Linked DNA regions of Homo sapiens. Changing the gene in region 7 together with the main gene of any one other region gives a genetic interaction. Each region holds a gene or a part of one and is shown on either strand. Other genes may lie near its edges.

Region 1 (3,500 bases), on a different chromosome or scaffold from region 7:
CACCCACCTCGGCCTCCCAAAGTGCTGGGATTACAGGCATGAGCCACCACGCCTGGCCCTCAGCCTGTAGTTTCTAAGATTTTTATCCTGGACCTGTAGGAGTAGGAGTCTAAGTGCCCTTTAAAATTGTACACAAGGCCGGGCGTGGTGGCTCACGCCTGTAATCCCAACAATTTGGGAGGCCGAGGTGGGCGGCTCACAAGGTCAGGAGTTTGACACCCGCCTGTCCAACATGGTGAAACCCTGTCTGTACTAAAAATACAAAAATTAGTCGGGCATGGTGGCACACACCTGTAATCCCAGCTACTCAGGAGGCTGAAGCAGGAGAATAGCTTGAACCTGGGAGGCAGAGGTTGCAGTGAGCCAAGATCATGCCACTGCACTCCAGCCTGGGCAACAGAGCAAGATTCCATCTCAAAAAAATATAAAATTGTACACAAAATTGTGTGTATGTATGCATTTTATTTGGAGACAAGGGATATCACTCCCTCTCCCCAACACTGGCTAAAAAGTTACTGCAATCTGGCTGGGCGCAGTGGCTCACGCCTATAATCCCAACACTTTGGAAGGCCAAGGCGGGCGGATCACGAGGTCAGGAGATTGAGACCATCCTGGCTAACACGGTGAAACCCCGTCTCTACTAAAAATTCAAAAAGATTAGCTGGGCATGGTGGCGGGCACCTGTAGTCCCAGCTAATCGGGAGGCTGAGGCAGGAGAATGGCATGAACCCAGGAGGCGGAGCTTGCAGTGAGCCAAGATCACACCACTGCACTCCAGCCTGGGCGACAGAGCAAGACTCCATCTCACCAAAAAGAAAAAAAAAAAAAAAAGTTACTGCAATCTAATTAATGATGGTAATCTTTGGTTTATGACATGCAAGCACCTATATGATTATGATACACTTACATAAAGGAATACCAGCAAAGCCTCAGACACTTATTTTAAATTCACTGATTTTTTTTTTTTTTTAAAGCTAAGAAGACCTTTTAGGGAAAGAGAATTTGTAATGTTGGAAAACCCAGCAGTAATAGTATGTCTGAACGTCAGAAGGGCTAGAATCAACTTTTGAAAGTTGGCAATACCTAGTCTAGCAAACATAATGAAGACTAACTCACCCATTTGTTTATTGAGCTCCTTATCTTGATTCCTAATAGGCAATGACTAGAATTAAAGAAGGTGACTAATACTTGAAATGACATGGGACTGTTATTTTCAGATAATTTGGTCTTTCTGAAGCTGTAACAGTACCAATAAATTGTTTTGCTCCCTGGACAGGCTTGAGAAGGAGAAAGCAGAAATTGAACGCATGCGAAACCTGACTGAGGAAGAGAGGAGAGCTGAACTTCGGGCAAACGGCAAAGTCATTACCAACAAAGCTGTTAAGGGCAAATACAAGTTCTTACAGAAGTATTATCACCGGGGTGCCTTCTTCATGGTAAGAAGTGAAAAGAGAGTCAGAAAATTGGGCAGTAGGAATAACTCAGAAACTTTGAATTATTTTTCTCTTCAAGAATATTCTGGAATGTAATTTCCACTTGCCAGTGGTCAGCTTTCTCATTTGCTTTTTCCTTCTGAACAATATAAACTCAGAGAAAAGCATCAGCAATTGGATGACAGAAGTAGCATCAACTGTTCTCTCTTTTGGCCCCAACTCTCAAAAATAGGAAATGATGTAATAGACTTTTTTTTTTTTTTTAAGAGACAGAGTCTCGCTGTCACCCAGGCTGGGGTACGGTGGTGCGATTATAGTTCACTGCAACCTTGACGTCCTGCGCTTTACACCTGCTTCAGCCTCCAGAGTAGCTGGGACTACAGGCATGCAACAACCATGCCTGGCTTTTTTTTTTTTTTTGGTTATTTTTTTTTTAATTTTTCGTAAAGACCAGGTTTCACTATGTTGCCCAGGCTGGTGTTGACCTTCTGGCCTCAAGCAATCCTCCCACCTCAGCCTCCCAAAGTATTAGGAATACAGGCATGAGCCATCATCCCCAGCCTTAGATAAATTGAGGAAATGAAATAGAGAAGTGATCTGTACAGATAGTGGACTAATTAGGTCCTCCACATGACATAGTTGTCATTCTTTCATAGCTGAATGAGAAGTTTTGGTTATGTGAAAACCAAACTCTGCAAATAGCTTTACATTAATTCACTTTTGGGTGGCAGAAAGTTAGTTCACTTCATTCTGAACTGACAGTACCCAAGAGTAACTAACCAAAAAAAATGGTTTATTATCTAACCATTAGATGGAATGCCGTCATCTTTGTTTTTCATATAAAGACTAAGATCAAAATAGCAATCTGTTAACCCTGTATGGTTTATTTCCTAATGTTAAAGCAGTTTGCACCAAAAACTAGACTAGCTTTTTCAAGTGCCGTGTGGCAAATTCTAAATATCCCCACTGCAACTAAATTCCTGCCTTTCACTGCAGATGCTGTTAAAACTTCAGTGGCGGCTTCCCTGCCACCCTCCAAAATCAGTTTCAGGTCTATCTGATTAGCAGGAAGTGTTTACTTAGGTAGTTTTCCAGCAGATGTAGCTTACTATTCAGTGGAGATTATGAACTACTTCTTGTACTGCTTCGGTCATAAAGTTTGTTTGCTTAAGCAGTTCGCAGCTTTAATAATCAAGTTTCTTAGAGAAGCAGTTCATTGCTAGTTAAGATACATAAGAAAAGTGTATGTGAAAGTCCTTTGGTGGGCCAGGTACATTGGCTAATGCCTGTAATCTTAACATTTTGGGAGGCAAGGCCAGCAGATCAGTTGAGCCCAGGAGTTCAGCCCGGGCAACATGGCAAAACCCCATCTCTACAAAAAATACAAAAATTAGGCGTGGTGGTCCGTGCCTGTAGTGTCACCTATCAAGGGGCTGAGGTGGAAGGATTGCTTCAGCCCGAGAGGTTGAGGCTGCAGTCAGCCGTGATCGTGCCACTGCACTGCAGCCTGGGTGGCTGACCAAGACTTTGTCTCAAAATAAATTGTTTTTAAAAAGTCTTTCTTAAACAAGATAGTGCTATTTTTAATTCCTTCAGCATATGTGTTTATAAATATGTATCACAGCATTGTAATATTATCACTCAGGCTAGAGTGCAGTGGTGCAGTCATGGCTCACTGCTGCCTCATTCTCCTGGGCTCAAGCAGTCCTCCTGCCTCAGCCTCCTGAGTAATTGGGACTACAGGTGTGTGCCACCACACCTAATTTCTATTTTGTAGAGATGGGTTTTGCTATGTAGCCCAGGCTGGTCTCAAACTCCTGGGCTCAAACTCTCCTTCCACCTTGGCCTCCCAAAGTGCTGGGATTACAGGCAAGAGCAACTGCATCCAGCCTTACTAATGTTGTTTATTTCATTGAGTAAGTAAGCTTTAGTGCATATACTATGCAAAGGTCACTGTTTAGCACTGTTAGCGAGAATACATAATCACTATAACATAAGTAAAAGTAAAGTACTGTAGGGGTTCTGACGAGAGAGATGTTATATTTGGTAGAAGATTGAAAGGGTTGA
Region 2 (3,965 bases), on a different chromosome or scaffold from region 7:
CGAGGTGGCTAACCCCTGTAATCCTAGGCACTCTGGGAGGCCGAGGAGGGCGGATTGCTTGAGCCCAGGAGACCACCCTGGGCAACAGCTCTACAAAAAATAAACAAATTAGCCAGGCCTGGTGGCTTGTGCCTGTAGTTTCAGCTACTCGGGAGACTGAGGTGGGAGGGCTGCTTGAACCCGGGAAGCGGAGGTTTTGGTGGGCGGAGAGCGCGCCATGCCTTCCAGCCAGGGTGACAGAGCGAGACCCTGTCTGAAAAAAAAAATTAAAAAATAAAAAAAATAAATAAAGGCTGGGGCCAGGCGTGGTGGCTCACGCCTGTAATCCCAGCACTTTGGGAGGCCGAGGCGAGGGGATCACCTGAGCTGAGGAGTTCAAGATCAGCCTGGGCAACATGGCGAAACCCCGTCTCTACTAAAAATACAAAAAATTAGCCAGGCGTGGTGGTGCATGCCTGTAATCCCAGCTACTCAGCTACTCGGGAGGCTGGGGCAGGAGAATCGCTGAACCCGGGAGGCGGAGGTTGCAGTAAGCCGAGATCGCGACACTGCACTCCAGCCTGGCACCCTGGGCGACAGAATGAAGCTCTGTCTCAAAAAAAAAAAAAAAAAAAAAGGTGTAAATGCTCTTTGCAGTTCCATATACTGCCTCCCCAGAACCTTTATGGAGTTGGATTATAACTGCCTGAGCCCGCCCCTCCCGTCCATCTCGCGCTTTAAATTCCTCCGCGACGTGAGCCTCGGTTAATCGTCTTTGAAAACTCTGGCCCCTCCTCCCGTCAGCACCCCCAGACTACTGGCGCCCAGCTCAGAGTTGCCCAGATTGGGAGATCTGCAAGGTTTCCCGAAGGAATGAATGAACGAATGACTGAATGGACGAATTTGAGTCCTCCGTGTGCCATCTCTGGTAGCTGCCGCCCACGTTGGGCCTCGGTTTCCCCAACTGCGCGCCTACACCGTGACGCCGACCTCGCTATCAGGGGTGCCGTGAATGAGGCGAGCACTACAAGGCGGGGCTCCGGCCCTACCAGGCGGGGCGGGCAGTACCACGGCGTTCCTCGGGGGCGGGGGAGATGAGGCGGAGCCGGGGCTCCCCCGCTGCGGCGCCATTGGCCGCGCCCGCCGCCACCCGGCAGTAGTTGCGGAGGTCAGCCCCGCCTACTTCCTCTTTCCCTCGGAGCGGGCGGCGGCGTTGGCGGCTTGTGCAGCAATGGTGAGAGCTGCGGAATCGGGCGCCATCCGAGCGCTGTGAGGCGCGGGGGTTGGGGAAGGCGGTGCGGGCTGAGCCCGCGGATTCTATCTGCCACCTAGGCCTGTGGGGCGCCGCGCAGAATGGTCTGGCGCCACCACAACCCGCCTCTTCGCTTGGCGCCGGGAGAGGCGCGCGGCCCGGGCCTGGGTTACTCTGCCCAAGGCACGGCCGGCGAGGGAGACTGTCCTGAGCCCTGGTTGGGGCTCCGGCGCACTCGTAGTCGATGGCGAGTCGCGCGCCTTTGGGGGCTGGCCACGCAGGTGAAGGGGATATGGCCCCGCGGCCTGGCTGAGGCACACTCTCTCTTGCGCGCAGGCCAAGATCAAGGCTCGAGATCTTCGCGGGAAGAAGAAGGAGGAGCTGCTGAAACAGCTGGACGACCTGAAGGTGGAGCTGTCCCAGCTGCGCGTCGCCAAAGTGACAGGCGGTGCGGCCTCCAAGCTCTCTAAGATGTAAGTGAGGCGGCCGGATCACAGCCCTCGTGGGTGGGGAGCACGTGTGCATCGGGATCGTCGGAGGATTTCAAAGTTGGCTTAAGGAGCTGGCCGCTTAGATGCCCACTCCGTGCATCCTGGCGCGCATGGGAGACCCGTTGTGTGCTTAGCCTCTTACCTGCCTTGACCTTGCGGTCCTTGTGCCTGGAATGCATCCCCGGAGACCCATCTTAATGCTGCCTTCAAAGCCTACCCGGACCCCTTCCTTCCGCTTCCCACCAACACTTGAGTTTTTAACCCCCTTGGCAGGTGGGTGGCTTGCACCCTGGAGTGGCAGCGTAAGTTATTTTACATGGCTAAGAGTGCGGGAGACTTGTGAAAGGAACATGGGTTTGGAGTTCATCAACCTGGGTACAAAGTCCACTTCTCAAAAAAAAATTAGATGGGTGTGGTGGTACAGGCCTGTAGTCCCAGCTACTCTGGAGGCTGAGGCAGGAGGATCACTTGAGCCCAGGAGTTGGGAGGCTATGATGGGGCCACTGCTCTTCAGTCTGGTTGACAGGTGAGACCCTGTCTCCAAAAAAAAAAAATGGTGGTTGCCCTCTTTGCCCCCAAACAACCTTAGTAGAGGCAGGGGTGGGAGGATTGGACAAGCACAGTTGCACACTGAATCCTCAAAAACCATGTTGACCAGCTGTCTACTAGGTGACTCCCTCATCCTGACATGACTACAAATAACTTCTCCCTGGCTCGTTGTTTGCTTCAGTCTCCTGGCTTGTAGTGACTCCACTTTGCAAATGTCTTGTTTCTCTCTCCTGCAGTTCCCTAAGCTAGCCTGATTGCCTGGTTTGTGGCATGATTCCTTCCCATCAGCTCATTGAAATTGGCATTGGTTGGGTCTTAGCCCTCAGGATAAATTCGTGTTCTGGGATTGAAGGTCTTTTTCTGATCTGCCTCATTTATCCAGCCTGCACTTCCTCATAAAGCCTCTGCTGTCTCTCCCATGCCCCTCTCTTCCCTCCTCAGACCTCACTCCCAGAACGCCTTCCTCCTGAGTGAATATGGATGGGTTGATGGGGGAGGCTGCAGCTATTGCTGCCCTATGTGTGAGTCCTGAGTCTTGGGTAGTGCTATGTGTCTTCCCTATCTTCACTGACATCTCTGTTTTGTAGCCGAGTCGTCCGGAAATCCATTGCCCGTGTTCTCACAGTTATTAACCAGACTCAGAAAGAAAACCTCAGGAAATTCTACAAGGTGAGTCTGCCTGGACATAGGGAGGGTTGGCTGCAGGAAGCCAAGTGCTAGCCGTCCCTGGCCGGGGACATGGTAAAGAGGTTTTTCTTGGTGCGTGGGCTGAGAGTGGTTAGCCTTCCCAATTTGTTGCTGGGCTCACTCTTCTACCAGTGTCTTGCACTGGCACGTGGCTCTGCAGACCACTTCCTCAGGCTGCAGATGTCAAGAATTCATTGGGGCTTGGGGTGTCCTGGCTGGAGACTCAGTTTTTGAAACCAGCCTTCCCAGTTGAGTGGCTTGGGCAGTGATAGGACTGGCTGTTGAAGGTTTTCACTGCCTCTTACTGGCACTGGGTGTCAGTCCCTGCCAGGCACCTGCCATGCTCATTTTTCAGATGAGGGCCCTGAGGCCTAGACACCCACAGTCAATGGCATGATGGGCCCTGGTTCCAAACCTTACCTTGGGGAGGGTCGGCTTTAGTGTTCTGGGAGGTGTGCACAGGTGTCTGGCCCCCTCTTAGTCTTGAATTTTGATAACCATTTTCTGGTCTTGTCCTTAACATTCATCTTATTGGGGTTCAAGCAGAGAAAACTAGGGGGAGACGGTGTGTGCACATGCATCCAATGTATTCTGAAGAATGGGCATAGGTGATTGTGGGGGCTGGCTGGGACTCAGGGCTCAGGTTGAAGCTGCTGTTCCCAGTGGGTACTTGGAGGGAGCCTCAGCCCTGTGCTTAAGACTTACAGCTGATTGGATCGGGCCTTCTGGGATTACCCAGGATAATCTCCCCTAAAGTTACCTGATGAGGGTCTTTAATTTCATCTGCAAAATGGTTCCACATCACTACCCAAATTGTGTTTGAATAACTTGAAGATTTGACACAAGGGAAAAGCAGCCATGGCTGATGAAGTGCCACAGGCCTATAACCCCAGCTACTGGGAGGCCGAGGCAGGAGGATGGCTTGAGCCCAGGAGTTAAAGTGTAGCCTGGGCAACATAGTGAGGCCTCATCTCAAAAAAATGAGAAGGGCCATAGTGTGGCTATGT
Region 3 (4,198 bases), on a different chromosome or scaffold from region 7:
GTGAACGCTGTGAGAATGCGCGGGGTAAAGGCGACGTCTCTCCCTCCCGGGAAGAACTTGGATGGTGTCAGGCCTACACTCTCGCTCCGCCTAGGGCCGCTCGCTGGGCCTGGCTCCCCGGCTGCCGGGCTACGCGAGCTCAGAGGACACCATCGCCCTCTTATGGCCGCGGCAGGACTGGACCGAGGGGCTGGGCTCTAGTGCCTTCCTCCAGGCACGGCAGAGGGCGAGGGTCTGGCAGCCCGCTTACCCAGGGCCTCGGGGCACTAGCATTCATGTCATCGACTGCCTGGCAGGGCTGGCTTTCTTAAGTGTGGTCGTGAGACTTGCTTAAGTGGAAGAAATGCTGTCGCTTTGGAGATTTATAAAACAATTGGCTCGATGGATCTTTCTTCAGGAGGCGGACTTGGTTTACCGGCTTTACTGACCACAGCTGATGCCAATGATTTCATTTAATCGTCTTTAGAGTCCCTGTGCATGGGGAGTTACCATCCCCAATTAGTTTCTTGTGAATGCAGGGCAAGGAGAGGGAGAGGGTAGTGGGGGACGGGGAGAAGGGGCGAGGGGTACCCTCCTATTAAAACGGAGCCGCAGAAAAACCCACAGAGACATCCGTCTGTTCCCCGCTGAGTCCTTAGAACAGCGCCTGGCACACAGAGAGCGCTCAACTCGCTGTGTAACTAAATGCAAGCCAAGATCTTCGCATTGTGTGTGCTCTTCCCTTCCCTACCAAATATACCTGGCTTGCAAGGTTTGACCTGTTTTCTTAGACGATTTTTAACTTGTTTCCAAAAGAAATATTGGAGTAAATTAGCTTGTTCAAAGGAGTCCTTATGAAAGGACAGAACCAAGTGAGAAGTATCTGGAGCCCGGTTTGGGGTTATAGATGATGATGTTGAGCCAGCACCCACGGGGCGGCCGCAATGTAGAATCCTGGCGCTACTGGGAACCGTGTGGAAAGGGGCTCTTCTTTCTGTTCAAATAGTGTTTTCTGTAGATCCCATCTCTCCATCCTCCTGAGCTCTCTCTTACAAAATATCGGATTTCAGCAGCTTAGAATTGGACAGAAACTCAGAGGTCCGTTTCTCAATTATCTCTAACCCTGGTAAACAATAAATGGGATGATGAGTACAAGACAGTTTTGGTAAAAAGTCACACGCCACACAACGTGAGATTTTATTATTCCACGGGTGCTTCCTTGCCAATAGTAGACATGGCAGCTCGGCTCCCTTCCCTTCGGGTTCGCCTTATTGTTGCCAATTGTAAACATGGCCTCTAGGCCGTGAGTTCTCATTGGCAGCTGCTCTGAGTCCCCGCCCTTCCCCGCCCCTCCGAACGCGGCCTGGAGTTGTGGAGTCGGATATCGCAGCTCCCGACTGAGCTGCGCCTGCGCAACTCATTGGCGCCAAGATGGCGATGGAGATGAGGCTTCCAGTGGCTCGCAAGCCTCTTAGCGAGAGACTGGGCCGCGACACTAAGAAACATCTAGTGGTGCCGGGGGATACAATCACTACGGACACAGGATTCATGCGGTACGTGGGGACTTGGGGGAGTCGAGGCTTCAGAGAGCGGCTTCAGGGCTCTCTGCACGTGGTCCAGGCCTCGTATCCCTGTGTGTGTAACTCCCCGCGGGACCCAGGGCACTTCGTCTGAGCATCCTACACACCTCGCTTCCGAGCCTCGTGCTTCTTGCTCCCTGCATCTTGTGTGTCCCCGTCTGCATTTGTCTCAGCTCCCTGAAACCCTCCACTCCTGACCTCCGGTGGCTGTGACTTTTGGGTCTTCTGCCTGAAGTCCAAATCTTTGATCCTTCCTTGTGGGAGACCTGGAAAGCTGGGGAGGGTTAGGTGCAGGCTCTTTTCCAGTTTTCAGCTCTCTGAGGGGACGGTGGGCGTTCTTGGCTGCCTCCTCTTCAGTTTAGAATCCGTAATTGTTCGATCTTAGGGCAAACAGTTACATTGTGCTGCATGCACCCATTTATACACATTTTGAATCTAAGGGGTGTAGTGCAGTGTATTGTGGTTAAGAGGGAAGGCTCTTGAGTCAGACAGTTGGGGTTCCGGTCCTGCTACCATCACATCTTATTAGCGGCATTGCCTCTCCACGGTCAGTTTCCTCATCTGTAAGATAGTGATAATAACAGTATGATACGGTAATGAGGATTAAATGAGACAATTATGTAAGAAAAGAAGTAAAACCAGCCATTATATCATCATAGATAACACTAGTGTTTCAACCTTTATTATTATTATTTTTTTACTTGTATATGTACAAGGGGCACAGCATTCATAGCATTGCCCTTTAACCTGTTAGTTTAAGGTTAGTGGATACCAGGAAATTTTTTTTTCTTTTTTGAGACGGAGTCTGTCTTAGATCAGTCGTGCGATCTCGGCTCACTGCAACCTCTGCCTCCTGGGTTCAAGTGATTCTCCTGCCTCAGCCTCCTGAGTAGCTGGGATTACAGGTGCACGCCACCATGCCTAGCTAATTTTTGGTTTTTTTTTTTTTTAGTAGAGACAGGGTTTCACTGTGTTGGCCAGGCTGGTCTCGATCCCCTGACCTCAAGTGTGATCTGCCCGCCTCGGCCTCCCAAAGTGCTGGGATTACAGGCATGAGCCACCATGCCTGGCCCCTAGGAAATCTTAAGATTCATTCTTTCATTAATGCTTTCAACATATATTTTGTGCAGTTGGGTTATTATGGCAGAGTGAAAAATCTCTGTCCTGGTGGAGTTCTAACAGGGAGAGATAGATAATAAGCGCAATGAATAAGTTATTCAGAATGTTAGGCAATAATGCAATAGGGAAAAAAGTGGAGCAGGGTCAATGGTATGTGGGGGGAATGGTGGCAACAGGGTGGGCTGTGTTTTCAATGGCACAGTCAAGGTAGGCCTGCTGCAGAAAGTGACACCTGAGCAGACCTGAGTGAGAGGAGTGATGTCCAAGTAGCTGTCTGGAGAAGGAGCACTGAAGGCAGAGGGAGCAGCCAGCACAGAAGCCACGCTTTGCAGGGGGAGCCTGTTAGCTTTGAGGAACACGTTGTTCTTGAAGGGAGAGAAGTCATTTCGAGTTACCCTCGTATCCTTTCTTTGTATCTTCGCCTTGCATCAGGGGCCATGGAACGTATATGGGAGAAGAGAAGCTCATTGCATCTGTTGCTGGCTCTGTGGAGAGAGTAAACAAGTTGATCTGTGTGAAAGCTTTGAAAACCAGGTGAGAACAAAAGGTGTGTATTCCCTTTCTTGCAGCATCAGGTTGTACAACCAGGCTTTTCCTGCCCCCTCCTTATCCCCCACCCCACCCCTGCCTGCCCTGTCATGCTGTAAGTCTGAGGTTTTGACCATGACTGTAGGTGGGGTGGTGCAGATCAGTGCAGGCTTCAGAGGTTTCCCCATGTTATGTCACCACTCCAAGCCTTGGTTACCTCCTCTGCAAAGTGAGTATAATAGCATGGCCTACTTCATAGGATTTTCTCTTTTTTTTTTTTTTTTTTTTTCCGAGATGGAGTCTTACTCTGTTGCCGAGGCTGGAGTGCAGTGGCGTGATCTCGGCTCACTACAACCTTCGCCTCCCGGGTTCAAACAATTCTCCTTCTTCAGCCTCCCGAGTAGCTGGGATTACAGGCGCCCTCCACCACGCCTGGCTAATTTTTTTCGATTTTTAGTAGAGACAGGGTTTCACCATGTTGGCCAGGCTGGTCTCGAACTGCTGACCTCTGATGATTTCCCCCCACTTGGCCTCCCAAAGTGCTGGGATTACAGGCGTGAGCCACTGTGCCTGGCCTAGGATTTTCTTTAGAATTCAGTGAGATGGTGCCTGTAAAGTATTTAGCACAGAGCCTGATACCTAGAAGCATTCAATGAAGGTTAGCCCCAGAAAGCAAGCCAGTGGGGTTGGAACAGAGTGAGTGAGGGGGAGAGAAGGGGCAGATGTAAGCAGAGAGCTGAGGTGGGCGGGCGTGGGCCTGCCTTGTAGCCAGAGTAAGCATTTTGGCTTCTACTTTGTGTAATCTGGGAAGCACTGGAAGGGGTGGAGCAGAGGAGGGACTTGATCTGGACTTAAGCTCACTCTGGCTGCTGATGGGAGATTGAAGGGGGATAGGGCAAGCTTAGGGAGGTGGATTAGGGACCATACTCATGATCTGAAGTGATGGTGGCTTCAACTAAGGTGGGAGCAGTGGAAGGTGGAGGAGTGATTGG
Region 4 (3,500 bases), on a different chromosome or scaffold from region 7:
TATGTTAGTGTAATATCTAATATATAGTTTATTGGCTATCTAATATAATATAAACAGATTATCAATATTATAAGCTATTAGAAAAATGCAAGTTAAGGCAGATGATATACCTCTTTACACACCAACTACACACACCAACTACACACACACATACACACAGACACACACGACACACACCATACACATGTACACACACACCACATATACACAAACGTACACACACACCACACACACATACACACCACACACACACCACACATACATACACATCCACACACCACACATGTACACACGCCACACACACACATACACACCACATACACATATGTATGCACACATACACACCAACACCACACAGACACCACACATGCATAAACATATAGACATATACACACCACACACCATATGTACACATGTACACACACACCACATATACACACAACACACACAAATACACACACCACACACACACCACAAAAACCCCACACACACACAAACATATACACCCCACACATACGCATATATACACACACACATACACACCACACACATACACACCACACACACACCACACATACACACACGTACACACACCACACACACACCACAGACACACACCACACATACATACACATACACACACCACACACACGTACACACACCACACACACCACAGACACACATAGACACACCACATACACACCCACACCACACACACACAACTCATACCACACATACATACACAATAGACACATACACACCACACACACCATACATACACACGTATACACACACCACATATACACACACGTACACACACACCACACACACCCACATGCACACACCACACACACATACAAATATACACCACACACACATACACCACACACACGGTGCACATACACACACATATACACACACCAGACACACATACCACATACACATCACACATATATGTATACATGCATACACATACACACACACATACACACACTCTCCTCAAGGCAGTTTATCCTCTGAGAACTTTAAATTTACAAAAGACACATATGTCCATTACTTTGAGAAGGACAGGAAAGAACCCACTTTCTTTTGCAGCAACAGCAAGAGGGCCCTCCCGAGGCTCCTGCTCCCTGTCATAAGTCTCCTTGTTGAGGACATTCACAGGGTTCAGAACCCAGGGATCCTGCATGGGATGGTGCTTTGCTGATTACTTCACCTCTGATTTCTTTCCACTTTCAGAATACATAAACCAGTCCGTTCCCAAAAGGCCCGCTGGCTCTGTGCAGAATCCTGTCTATCACAATCAGCCTCTGAACCCCGCGCCCAGCAGAGACCCACACTACCAGGACCCCCACAGCACTGCAGTGGGCAACCCCGAGTATCTCAACACTGTCCAGCCCACCTGTGTCAACAGCACATTCGACAGCCCTGCCCACTGGGCCCAGAAAGGCAGCCACCAAATTAGCCTGGACAACCCTGACTACCAGCAGGACTTCTTTCCCAAGGAAGCCAAGCCAAATGGCATCTTTAAGGGCTCCACAGCTGAAAATGCAGAATACCTAAGGGTCGCGCCACAAAGCAGTGAATTTATTGGAGCATGACCACGGAGGATAGTATGAGCCCTAAAAATCCAGACTCTTTCGATACCCAGGACCAAGCCACAGCAGGTCCTCCATCCCAACAGCCATGCCCGCATTAGCTCTTAGACCCACAGACTGGTTTTGCAACGTTTACACCGACTAGCCAGGAAGTACTTCCACCTCGGGCACATTTTGGGAAGTTGCATTCCTTTGTCTTCAAACTGTGAAGCATTTACAGAAACGCATCCAGCAAGAATATTGTCCCTTTGAGCAGAAATTTATCTTTCAAAGAGGTATATTTGAAAAAAAAAAAAAGTATATGTGAGGATTTTTATTGATTGGGGATCTTGGAGTTTTTCATTGTCGCTATTGATTTTTACTTCAATGGGCTCTTCCAACAAGGAAGAAGCTTGCTGGTAGCACTTGCTACCCTGAGTTCATCCAGGCCCAACTGTGAGCAAGGAGCACAAGCCACAAGTCTTCCAGAGGATGCTTGATTCCAGTGGTTCTGCTTCAAGGCTTCCACTGCAAAACACTAAAGATCCAAGAAGGCCTTCATGGCCCCAGCAGGCCGGATCGGTACTGTATCAAGTCATGGCAGGTACAGTAGGATAAGCCACTCTGTCCCTTCCTGGGCAAAGAAGAAACGGAGGGGATGGAATTCTTCCTTAGACTTACTTTTGTAAAAATGTCCCCACGGTACTTACTCCCCACTGATGGACCAGTGGTTTCCAGTCATGAGCGTTAGACTGACTTGTTTGTCTTCCATTCCATTGTTTTGAAACTCAGTATGCTGCCCCTGTCTTGCTGTCATGAAATCAGCAAGAGAGGATGACACATCAAATAATAACTCGGATTCCAGCCCACATTGGATTCATCAGCATTTGGACCAATAGCCCACAGCTGAGAATGTGGAATACCTAAGGATAGCACCGCTTTTGTTCTCGCAAAAACGTATCTCCTAATTTGAGGCTCAGATGAAATGCATCAGGTCCTTTGGGGCATAGATCAGAAGACTACAAAAATGAAGCTGCTCTGAAATCTCCTTTAGCCATCACCCCAACCCCCCAAAATTAGTTTGTGTTACTTATGGAAGATAGTTTTCTCCTTTTACTTCACTTCAAAAGCTTTTTACTCAAAGAGTATATGTTCCCTCCAGGTCAGCTGCCCCCAAACCCCCTCCTTACGCTTTGTCACACAAAAAGTGTCTCTGCCTTGAGTCATCTATTCAAGCACTTACAGCTCTGGCCACAACAGGGCATTTTACAGGTGCGAATGACAGTAGCATTATGAGTAGTGTGGAATTCAGGTAGTAAATATGAAACTAGGGTTTGAAATTGATAATGCTTTCACAACATTTGCAGATGTTTTAGAAGGAAAAAAGTTCCTTCCTAAAATAATTTCTCTACAATTGGAAGATTGGAAGATTCAGCTAGTTAGGAGCCCACCTTTTTTCCTAATCTGTGTGTGCCCTGTAACCTGACTGGTTAACAGCAGTCCTTTGTAAACAGTGTTTTAAACTCTCCTAGTCAATATCCACCCCATCCAATTTATCAAGGAAGAAATGGTTCAGAAAATATTTTCAGCCTACAGTTATGTTCAGTCACACACACATACAAAATGTTCCTTTTGCTTTTAAAGTAATTTTTGACTCCCAGATCAGTCAGAGCCCCTACAGCATTGTTAAGAAAGTATTTGATTTTTGTCTCAATGAAAATAAAACTATATTCATTTCCACTCTATTATGCTCTCAAATACCCCTAAGCATCTATACTAGCCTGGTATGGGTATGAAAGATACAAAGATAAATAAAACATAGTCCCTGATTCTAAGAAATTCACAATTTAGCAAAGGAAATGGACTCATAGATGCTAACCTTAAAACAACGTGACAAATGCCAGACAGGACCCATCAGCCAGG
Region 5 (3,500 bases), on a different chromosome or scaffold from region 7:
TCCTGATACTTGTAATTCTACTTTCTTTGTTTTGTCCCATTATCAGTCTGGCTACACTGTTCTCAGATAACTAGCTTTTGGTTTCATTGATTTTCTTTATTGTTTTTCTGTTTTCTATTTCTTTGATTCTGCTCTTATATGTATTTGTTATGCTTACTTTGGGTTTAACTTGTTTTTTCTCTTCCTTGTTTATTAAGGTAGAAGCTGAGGTCATTGTTTTGAGACATTTCTTCCTCTCTGATATAGATCTTGAGTGCCATAAATTGCCTTCTAGATATTGTTTAAACAGTGTGCCACAAATATTAACATGTTGTATTTTCATTTTCATCCACTTAAAAATATGTTCTAAAACTCCCTTTGGCCCGCTGGTTATTTAAGAGTGTGACTTAATTTTCACACACATGGGAGATTTTCCAGGTATTTTTTCCTGTTCGTGATTTTTAATTTAATTCCCTTATCAGAGATCATATTTAATTTGAGGTCTGTTGAAGTTTATCAGACTGGTTCAGAATATGGTCTCTATAAATGTTTTATGTGTATTTGAAAAGGATACATTTTCTGCTGCTGTGAAATTTTGACTATAACTTTTGGATTTTTCTGTTTCTCCTTTCAGTTCTATTGGTTTTTGGTTGTGTATTTTGAAGCTCTTTTATTAGGTGCATAAATGCTTAACATTGTTCTAGTTTTTTGGTGGATAATACACTTATTATGAAATGACCTTCATTATTCTTGGTTAATATTTGCTCAGAAATCTATTTTATTTGTCATTAATACAGCCAGTTATTCTGACTAGTGTCAGCATGGTGTGTTTTTTTCTATTCTTTTATTTTAGCCTGTTTGCATCTTTATGTTTAAAGTGGACGTTTTTGTAGGTAACATAACAATTGGGTCTGGCTTTTTTTTATTTTTATTTTTTATTTTTTATTTTTTTTGAGATGGAGTCTTGCTGTGTCGCCCAGGCTGGAGTGTAGTGGCGCGATCTCGGCTCACTGCAAGCTCCGCCACCCGGTTTCATGCCATTCTCCTGTCTCAGCCTTCCGAGTAGCTGGGACTACAGGCGCCCGCCACCACGCCCGGCAAATTTTTTTGTTTTTTTTTAGTAGAGATGGGGTTTCATTCACTGTGTTAGCCAGGATGGTCTTGATCTCCTGACCTCGTGATCTGCCCGCCTCTGCCTCCCAGAGTGCTGGGATTACAGGCGTGAGCCACTGCGCCTGTCCGGGTCTGGCTTTTTTATACAGTTTGAGAATCTCTGCCCCCTCTTTTTATTGGGATAAAACATACATAAAATTACCATTTTGACTGTTTTAAAGTGTACAATTCAATGGAACCAAGTATGTTCAAATTGTTGTGCAACTGTCACCAATGTCTATTTCCAGAACAATTTTATCATCCCAAACAGAAACGCTACCTGTTAAACAGTAACTCCTTGTCCCCCTCCCCACTTTCTATCTTTATAAATTTGCCTATTCTAGTTACCTTATGTAAATGAAATCATAATATTTTTCCTTTTGTGTCTGGCTTATTTCTCTTAACATAGTGTTTTCAAGGTTTGTCCATGTTGTTGCATGTCTCAGAATTTCATTCCTTTTTAAAGCTGAATGATACTCCCATTGTATATGGGAGTATATGTCACACTCTGGACACTTTGGCTGGTTCTACCTTTAGTCTATTATGAATAACACTGCTATGCACATTGGTGTACAAGTATCTTTTTTAGTCCCTGCTTTCAGTTCTTTTGAGTATGTACCTGTGAGTGGAATCATTGGATCATGTAATTCTGTGTTTAGCATTTTGAGGAACCACCAAACTGTTTTTCTAGTCTGCTTTGTAATTGGGCCATTTAGAACATTTATATTTAAAATGATTATTGATGGCCAGGCATGTTGGCTCACGCCTGCAATCCCAGCACTTTGGGAGGCCAAGGAAGATGGATCATTTGAGGCCAGGAGTTCGAGAGCAGCCTGGACAACATGGTGAAACCTCGTCTCTACTAAAAAAGTAACAAAAAAAAATTAGCTGGGCATAGTGGTACAACACCTATAAACCCAGCTACTCAGGAGGCTGAGGCACAAAATCACTTGATCCTGGGATACTGAGATTGTAGTGAGCTGAGATTGTTCCACTGCACTCCAGCCTGGGCGACAGAGCGAGCCTCTGTCTCAAAAGACAAAAAAAGATTATTGATATGGTTAGATTTAAATCTGTCATCTTACTATTTGTTTTCTGTCTCATCTGTTCATTGTTTCAGTTTCTTAAGTCTTATGCCTTCTTTTAGGTTGTGTTTTTTTTTGTCTTTTTGAGAGGAGTTTCACTGTGTTGCCCAGGCTGGAGTGCAGTGGCGCGATCTCAGCTCACTGCAAGCTCTGCCTCCCAGGCTCACGCCATTCTCCTGCCTCAGCCTCCCGAGTAGCTGGGACTACAGGCGCCTGCCACCATGCCCAGCTAAGTTTTTGTATTTATTTATTTTTTTTTAGTAGAGACAGGGTTTCACCGTGTTAGCCAGGATGGTCTCTATCTCCTGACTTCCTGGAATTACAGGTGTGAGCCACCGTGCCCGGCCTTAGGTTGTGTTTTTATGATTTCATTTTATTCCCTTTGCTCACTTATTAAGAACTCTTTACTGATTCAGTCATCAGCTTCTTCACTTCATATACTTTAACTGCTTGGCTCATGCAGTCCTCCATTTATCAGCTTTCTGACCATCGGAAAATGACTTAAATGCCTAAACTCTAGAGAGCCAGAGCTTCTTGTTAAAACCAAACCCCAAGATTTTTTTTTTTTTTTTTTTTTTTTGAAGACAGAGTCTTGCTCTGTTGCCCAGGCTGGAGTGCAGTGGTGCAATCTCTGCTCACTGCAACCTCTGCCTCCTGGGTTCAAGCCATTCTTCCTCAGCCTCCCAAATAACTGGGACAACCAGTGTGCACCATGACGCCTGGCTAATTTTTGTATTTTTAGTAGAGGTTTCACCACGTTGGCTAAGCTGGTCTTGAACTCCTGACCTCAGGCGATCCGCCTGCCTCAGCCTCCCAAAGTGCTGGGATTAGAGGCGTGAGCCACCATGCCTGGGCCCTAGATAAATTAAATAACACAGTTCAATTGAGCAATGAACAGTTTGCCAGTTGAGTGGCCCTCAGAACCAGAAGAGGTTTGGGGAGCTCTTGAAAACAGAAGTGAGGTACAGAAACAGCTTAATCTTTTGGCTTATTTAAACATGGCCAGATAAGTTGGCAACCTGTGATTGACTGAAGCTCGACTGCTGCGATTGGCGGAGACTCTGCTTTTTGTTACAGAAGTATGCTCCTAAGTTAGGCTTTTCCTTAGTGGACTTTATGTAAGTAATATTGCAGTTCTTCAAGTGAAGAATCAGTAAGGAGCCATCCTCAGGCCAAATTTGGTGTAAGTTAACACACTACGCTACACTGTGCTGCTCCCTACAGTTTCCCCCTCTGGTCATCTCTGTGCAAGGGCTGAAAGCAGAAGGCTGCGTGTCCTCATTT
Region 6 (2,890 bases), on a different chromosome or scaffold from region 7:
GAACAAGATGTATGTGATTCAAATATAGATAAGTAAATATCATTTAATATATATTGAGCATAATTTTAGAGGGGAAAACATATTCACATACTACAAATTAGAATCCAGTGGAAAATTTTAAGTCTGGATATCGCATAACAGTTTGCTAACCATAAAACAAAACACAGATAATTGAAAAGAAATATATTGGTATCTGTGAACTCTGGTACAAAGCAGAGTTTCAGTAGTAATACATTTAAACTTAAAATACAAGTAAATGATCCCAGATCCTACAGTAAGTGTGGCCCATGACTTACCATTTTAAGAAAATTGCTGGTAGGGTGTGAATTGGTCATTTGTTGTGTTTTTTGTTGCTCTGCTCCACCACTAGAGGGAGGTCTTATCTATTAATTACATTTTCAGTGTTTCCTGCCCTACCTCCATTTTTATTATAATATAGACATGTTGGGCCAGGCGCGGTGGCTCGCGCCTGTAATCCCAGCACTTTGGGAGGCTGAGGCGGGTGGATCACCTGAGGTTGGGAGTTCGAGACCAGCCTGACCAACATAGAGAAACCCCATCTCTACTAAAAAAAAATAAAAAAATACAAAATTAGCCGGGCATGGTGGTGCATGCCTGTAATCCCAGCTACTCGGGAGGCTGAGGCGGGAGAATCGCTTGAACCCGGGAGGCAGAGGTTGTGGTGAGCCGAGATCACGCCATTGCTCTCTAACCTGGGCAACAAAAGCAAAACTCCATCTCAAAAAAAAAAGACATGTTGGGTCCAAGATAATTTTTTGGATACATTTCTTGTGTCTAAGGAATATGCCAGCAAACTAGTATTCTTTTAAAGCACGCTCCCGCTAAAGAAGATTTAGGATTCACTCATCTCAGTGTTCCTAGCCGCTAATAATAATAGCAAATATTCCTTGAGCACTGGATACCCCACAGAGTGCTCAGCACTTGATCTGAATTACCTCACCTAATCCTTACAGTAGTCCTGTGAGGTGATGGCTCTTTTGTTCTCCCATTTGCCAAGGAAGAAACAAAGGCCCCAAGGGTTTGCATACCTTGCCCAAGTAACCCAGCAAATGGGAGAGTTGTGGTCTTGGATCCTAGTTGGCTTCCAAAAGCCTCTGCCCTTAACCTTTCTGCCACAGTGCCTCCTTCACAAATGTCAGAGTCAAAATGCCCATCATTCCCTACTGAAGAAGGCCCGGGCCATGTTTGAATGATACTTCTGATAGTTTCCTCACGTGTATGATTTTAGCTTTTTTAGAATACACATATCAATTATGTTGCCTGTTCCTAGGAACTCACAAGCTTTAATTCTAAGTGTTCTTGAGTTCCAAGAAGATGCAGAATATATTACTGTTCTGAATTTCTATTGTACCTTTTCAGAATGAGCTTCCTGAACCTGAACAAGACAATGGTGGCACCACAGAATCTGTCAAAGAACAAGAAATGAAGTGGACAGACTTAGCCTTACAGTACCTCCATGAGAATGTTCCCCCCATTGGAAACTGACGCTTGGCTCCTTTCTTGTGGATGGATTTTCTCAAAGTACACAGATAAAGCATGGTTTGTTTCAGTCTCCAAATTCAAACCTTTGAGTAATAAATCAGCACTCAAAAATGTACACCCATTTAGTTTGTGGTAGCAAAGTGCAATGCGAAATTGAATGAGAAACTGAGATTTCTCAGTAATGGTGAATATTTCGCTCTTTAAACCTAAAACTCTTCATTGAGTAGCTTATATTTGAACATGATTGGTTAAACATTTGCCTCTACCTCTGATTTTGCTTTGCTGTCAAAGTTTAACACCTTCCAACTACTTATGTGTGTCCTGTAACACAGGTGATTGAACGTATGAGAGGGAAAGGCAAAGAAAAAGGAAGCCAGACACTAGGAGAATTATTAACTTCTCATACTTCCCCACATTGAGAAGCATTCGGAGTGTATTTAGCCTGTAGATGTTGTGATATGCAAATATCCCATTCCCTGGTTACTGGCATTCCTAAGATTCTTCATGGTATTTTCAAACTTTGGATAAATTTACAGATTAGAAAGATATCTGACAGTTAATCTCTGTTCTCCTTACAAATTCCTTTTGTGCTGCTGGAAAGGATCTTTGGCTAGGTGGATGACTAGTTTTATTCAAAGCCTTTTCTCAAAGCCCTTTCAGTTACAACCACCCCACTATGGAATCAGTATTTAGTTATACATTTGTATAAGAACCTGTATTTTGAAAAACACATTCATGTATATTTATTCCTGGAATTATTTGCCTGTTAAACAGTGTCTTTCATGTTCTCTCCCCAGATTGTAAACTCTGTAAGAAGCTGCTTGTATCTGTATCCCTTGTTGAAACTCTGAAAACACTGAATAACTAAAATCTCTTCTCATCCTTTTTATGCTGGGTCTTTTTGTTTACTTAGCTTTTAGGAGGAAGAGGTACATGAAAAAACAAATTAGCTTATTTTAGGTTTTCAATCACAAACATGATTTTAGCAGCTATCCTATAATCCAGATACATCCAGGCTGATTTCTTCTCTTTGCATCAGTAGTTCTGCCTAGAAATCTTTTATCTTCAGAATAAAGACCCCAAGGCACCAGTCCCTTCAGTAAGCAAAGAAAGACAACCTAATAGAAAAGAGACTTACAATATTAAAAAAACTTATACAAGAGAAAAAGCTTTTCAAAAAATTAAAATACCTAGAACGCCACAGTTCTTTCACATTCTTGTTAAATGAGGATTTTACAGCTTACTTGTGGTATGTAATCTCTGAGACACTAACATCTAAGAACTTGACAAATGTTCATGTGAATCCTGCCTAGCCTTTCCCTGGAATATTAGTAGACCAGTAAAATATGAAAGCTATTCTTGATTTCTGCTGAACCAGAATATGATA
Region 7 (2,936 bases):
AATTTGTAAGGAGATTGTGATTATAAGGAGATCTTTAAAAAAAAAAAAACCTGGGCTGCGGAATATATTAGGAAGTTATCAATAATTATATTAGGAAGTTATCAATAATTCATCTGTAAAATTGGAGATGTTAATATCTACCTCACTGAGCTGTTGGGAAGATTAAATGTAATCCAGGAAGCACATTTAAGTAGAGTGCTAGGCAAATGATGCTTACTGCTTTGATGGTCAGTTTGTTTTTTTTTTTTTTTTTTTGAGACAGAGTCTCGCTCTGTCGCCCAGGCTGGAGTGCAGTGGTGCGATCTCCGATCACTGCAAGCTCCGCCTTCCGGGTTCATGTCATCCTCCTGCCTCAGCCTCCCGAGTAGCTGGACTACAGGCGCCCGCCACCATGCCCGGCTAATTTTTTGTATTTTTAGTAGAGATGGAGTTTCACCATGTTAGCCAGGATGGTCTCGATCTCCTGACCTTGTGATCCGCCCGCCTCGGCCTCCCAAAGTGCTGGGATTACAGGCTTGAGCCACCGCGCCCGGCTGATGGTCAGTTTTTACACTCACACATGCACACACACACTGTCCAAAAAGTGAAATCTCTCAGTTTTATAGATTTGAGTCCTTGACCAAAGACTGAAAGAGTAGTGAAGCCACACATCTTTGCCTTTGTCACACATAATGATAATTTCCCCCATGACACCTTTTACTGGCACTTAGTCCCTTAAGTGCTTCTGAAAGTAAAACTGATGGGAAGTTTTTTATATCTGTTAGATTAGCAAAGATCAAAGACTTGATAATATACAGTGTTCTGAAGGTATAGGGAAACAGTACTCTCACACATTGTGTAAATTATCCTAACCCTTTTGGAGGACATGTTGGCAATACCTTAAAAATTTTAAAGTCCACATGGTCTTTGACTTAGAAATTTCAGTTCTAATCATTCTTTATATATATATATATATATATATATATATGTATATATATATCTGTATATAGATATATATGCTTCTAGCTGTGCAAAAAGACATTTATACAGAGACAGCTTTGTTTGTAGTAGACAAAGATATGAAACAAGCTAATGTCCATTAAGCAGAGTGGATAAGTAAATCATGATACATGGACAAAATGAGTGGACTATTCTGTGTTTCAGAATGGGCATGACCGATATATATGTGTATTAATGTGGGTCAGTCTCCGTGATATAACACTGAGCAACAAAAGCAAGATACAGAACGCTATGTATTATGTGCATAAAATAGCTCTGAAAAGATGGGCAGGGCGCGGTGGCTCACGCCTGTAATCCCAGCACTTTGGGAGGCTGAGGCGGGCAGATCACGAGGTCAGGAGATCAAGACCATCCTGGCTAACACAGTGAAACCCCATCTCTACTAAAAATACAAAAAATTAGCCGGGCGTACTCGTGGGCGCCTATAGTCCCAGCTATTTGGGAGGCTGAGGCAGGAGAACGGCTTGAACCGGGGAGGCGGAGCTTGCAGTGAGCGGAGATCACGCCACTACACTCCAGCCTGTGTGGCAGAGTGAGACTCCATCTCAAAAAAAAAAAAAAGTGTTGGGAGAGCATAGAATGAATATAATACAGTTGAAGCTTTGTATAGATACTTTCTGGTTAGGGATGAGAATGCCCTTCTGGTCTTTCTGAGTACCAGCCTGCATTTCTCTATGTCATGTCCTCCCTCAGGTATTTGAGTACAGCATCCCAGACAAACAGTATACAGATTGGAGCCGGACTGTCCAGAAGCAGGGCTTTCACCACCTTTGGCTCCAAAGGGATACTCCTATCACACACATCAGTTTTCATCCCAAGAGACCGATGCACATCCTTCTCCATGATGCCTACATGTTCTGCATCATTGACAAGTCATTGGTGAGTTCTTCACTGCTACCTCCCAAATCTTCTTCTGAATCTTAAAGTTCTAAAAGCAACAAGTACAATAAGGTAAGAGGACAGAGACTCAGAATAAAGGTAGCTAGTAAATCAGAATACAGGTAGCTAGTACATTTCTTGGAGGAGAGGGGCTTTTGTTTTACAGATTCCCTGGTTTGTGTTCCCACAGTTCTTCGGGAGGCTCTCGGGGAAGGGGCTGGCCTTTGTATACTGGCTTTTGCTGATTTGACTATTTGTCTACTTTGCGAGTAAGCACATAAATCTTACACAGAAAAGTGATTAGGCCAGTATTCGGAAGGTGACCCTCATCCGGAAGTATCATTGATTTGGCTAACTTGCTTTCAACTTTGAACTCTGGGGTATCTGAATAACCTGGTTTCATTAAAGGAGGTACAGGCTGAGGTTTTGACCTCTGTGCCCCTTCGCTAAAGCTACTAAAACGCTGTCTGCAGGCTTGAGGAACTGGTCTTAACATCTTCGAAAAACCCAGCTAGGAAAATTCTTCATGGCTGTGATTTACATGGGATACGAGCATTTTCTTCAGTTTTAGATTCTGTCCTCTTTGCCAGCTGCTGTTTTGATTCACCCTGAATTTGTATGGCTTTTCTGGGCAGGTGCTTTGTTTCCTAGGAGCATTGTGGCCATGCCTGTCCTGCACTTTGGGCTTAGATTACAACCATCACACGGTGTTTTGGTGTGTTTGTGAAGGTGGGGGTGGAAGGAACATGGGGGAAAGCAGCAGATGGCTCTAAAGGAGGTGTGCACGGGGATGTGTCACTGGAATCATCTCGTGGGCCCTGCGACCTCTGGGTGTGGGAAGCAGAGCTGGCTGACAAGTGCCTTCTGCAAGATGAGTGATACAGGAAGGGCCCCTCCCACTCTCTTGCCTCTTTGTAATTGAGCCCAGATCATTTTTTCCAAAGCATTGGCTTTAAGTTCATCGCTTCCTTACAGTAGGCATAGCTATTTCCCAGGAAGTCAGAGACAAAATATCATTTCTTTGGCCAGAGGCCACCTCGAGGTGTCAGTGACATCAG

Evidence for each region.
Region 1: changes in UTP4 (region 7) and MFAP1 together harm fitness more than expected from each alone (negative genetic interaction), as found in Homo sapiens cells (one large-scale study listed by BioGRID).
Region 2: changes in UTP4 (region 7) and RPL35 together harm fitness less than expected from each alone (positive genetic interaction), as found in Homo sapiens cells (one large-scale study listed by BioGRID).
Region 3: changes in UTP4 (region 7) and EXOSC2 together harm fitness more than expected from each alone (negative genetic interaction), as found in Homo sapiens cells (one large-scale study listed by BioGRID).
Region 4: changes in UTP4 (region 7) and EGFR together harm fitness more than expected from each alone (negative genetic interaction), as found in Homo sapiens cells (one large-scale study listed by BioGRID).
Region 5: changes in UTP4 (region 7) and XRN2 together harm fitness more than expected from each alone (negative genetic interaction), as found in Homo sapiens cells (one large-scale study listed by BioGRID).
Region 6: changes in UTP4 (region 7) and ANAPC13 together harm fitness more than expected from each alone (negative genetic interaction), as found in Homo sapiens cells (one large-scale study listed by BioGRID).

Annotation. Positions count from the first base shown.
Region 1 is NC_000015.10:43,807,691-43,811,190, reverse strand, and holds part of MFAP1 (microfibrillar-associated protein 1), read left to right. Parts: intron 1-1,276; coding exon 1,277-1,436; intron 1,437-3,500. UniProt on the Homo sapiens protein: Involved in pre-mRNA splicing as a component of the spliceosome.
Region 2 is NC_000009.12:124,859,158-124,863,122, reverse strand, and holds the start of RPL35 (large ribosomal subunit protein uL29), read left to right. Parts: upstream 1-1,165; 5' UTR 1,166-1,210; coding exon 1,211-1,213; intron 1,214-1,567; coding exon 1,568-1,704; intron 1,705-2,858; coding exon 2,859-2,940; intron 2,941-3,965.
Region 3 is NC_000009.12:130,692,382-130,696,579, forward strand, and holds the start of EXOSC2 (exosome complex component RRP4), read left to right. Parts: upstream 1-1,398; 5' UTR 1,399-1,410; coding exon 1,411-1,532; intron 1,533-3,110; coding exon 3,111-3,212; exon of another isoform or gene 3,213-3,225; intron 3,226-4,198. UniProt on the Homo sapiens protein: Non-catalytic component of the RNA exosome complex which has 3'->5' exoribonuclease activity and participates in a multitude of cellular RNA processing and degradation events.
Region 4 is NC_000007.14:55,204,017-55,207,516, forward strand, and holds part of EGFR (epidermal growth factor receptor isoform a precursor), read left to right. Parts: intron 1-1,239; coding exon 1,240-1,601; 3' UTR 1,602-3,500. UniProt on the Homo sapiens protein: Receptor tyrosine kinase binding ligands of the EGF family and activating several signaling cascades to convert extracellular cues into appropriate cellular responses.
Region 5 is NC_000020.11:21,309,831-21,313,330, forward strand, and holds part of XRN2 (5'-3' exoribonuclease 2), read left to right. Parts: intron 1-3,500. UniProt on the Homo sapiens protein: Possesses 5'->3' exoribonuclease activity. May promote the termination of transcription by RNA polymerase II.
Region 6 is NC_000003.12:134,477,206-134,480,095, reverse strand, and holds the end of ANAPC13 (anaphase-promoting complex subunit 13), read left to right. Parts: intron 1-1,380; coding exon 1,381-1,506; 3' UTR 1,507-2,390; downstream 2,391-2,890. UniProt on the Homo sapiens protein: Component of the anaphase promoting complex/cyclosome (APC/C), a cell cycle-regulated E3 ubiquitin ligase that controls progression through mitosis and the G1 phase of the cell cycle.
Region 7 is NC_000016.10:69,163,649-69,166,584, forward strand, and holds part of UTP4 (U3 small nucleolar RNA-associated protein 4 homolog), read left to right. Parts: intron 1-1,692; coding exon 1,693-1,878; intron 1,879-2,936. UniProt on the Homo sapiens protein: Ribosome biogenesis factor. Involved in nucleolar processing of pre-18S ribosomal RNA. Part of the small subunit (SSU) processome, first precursor of the small eukaryotic ribosomal subunit.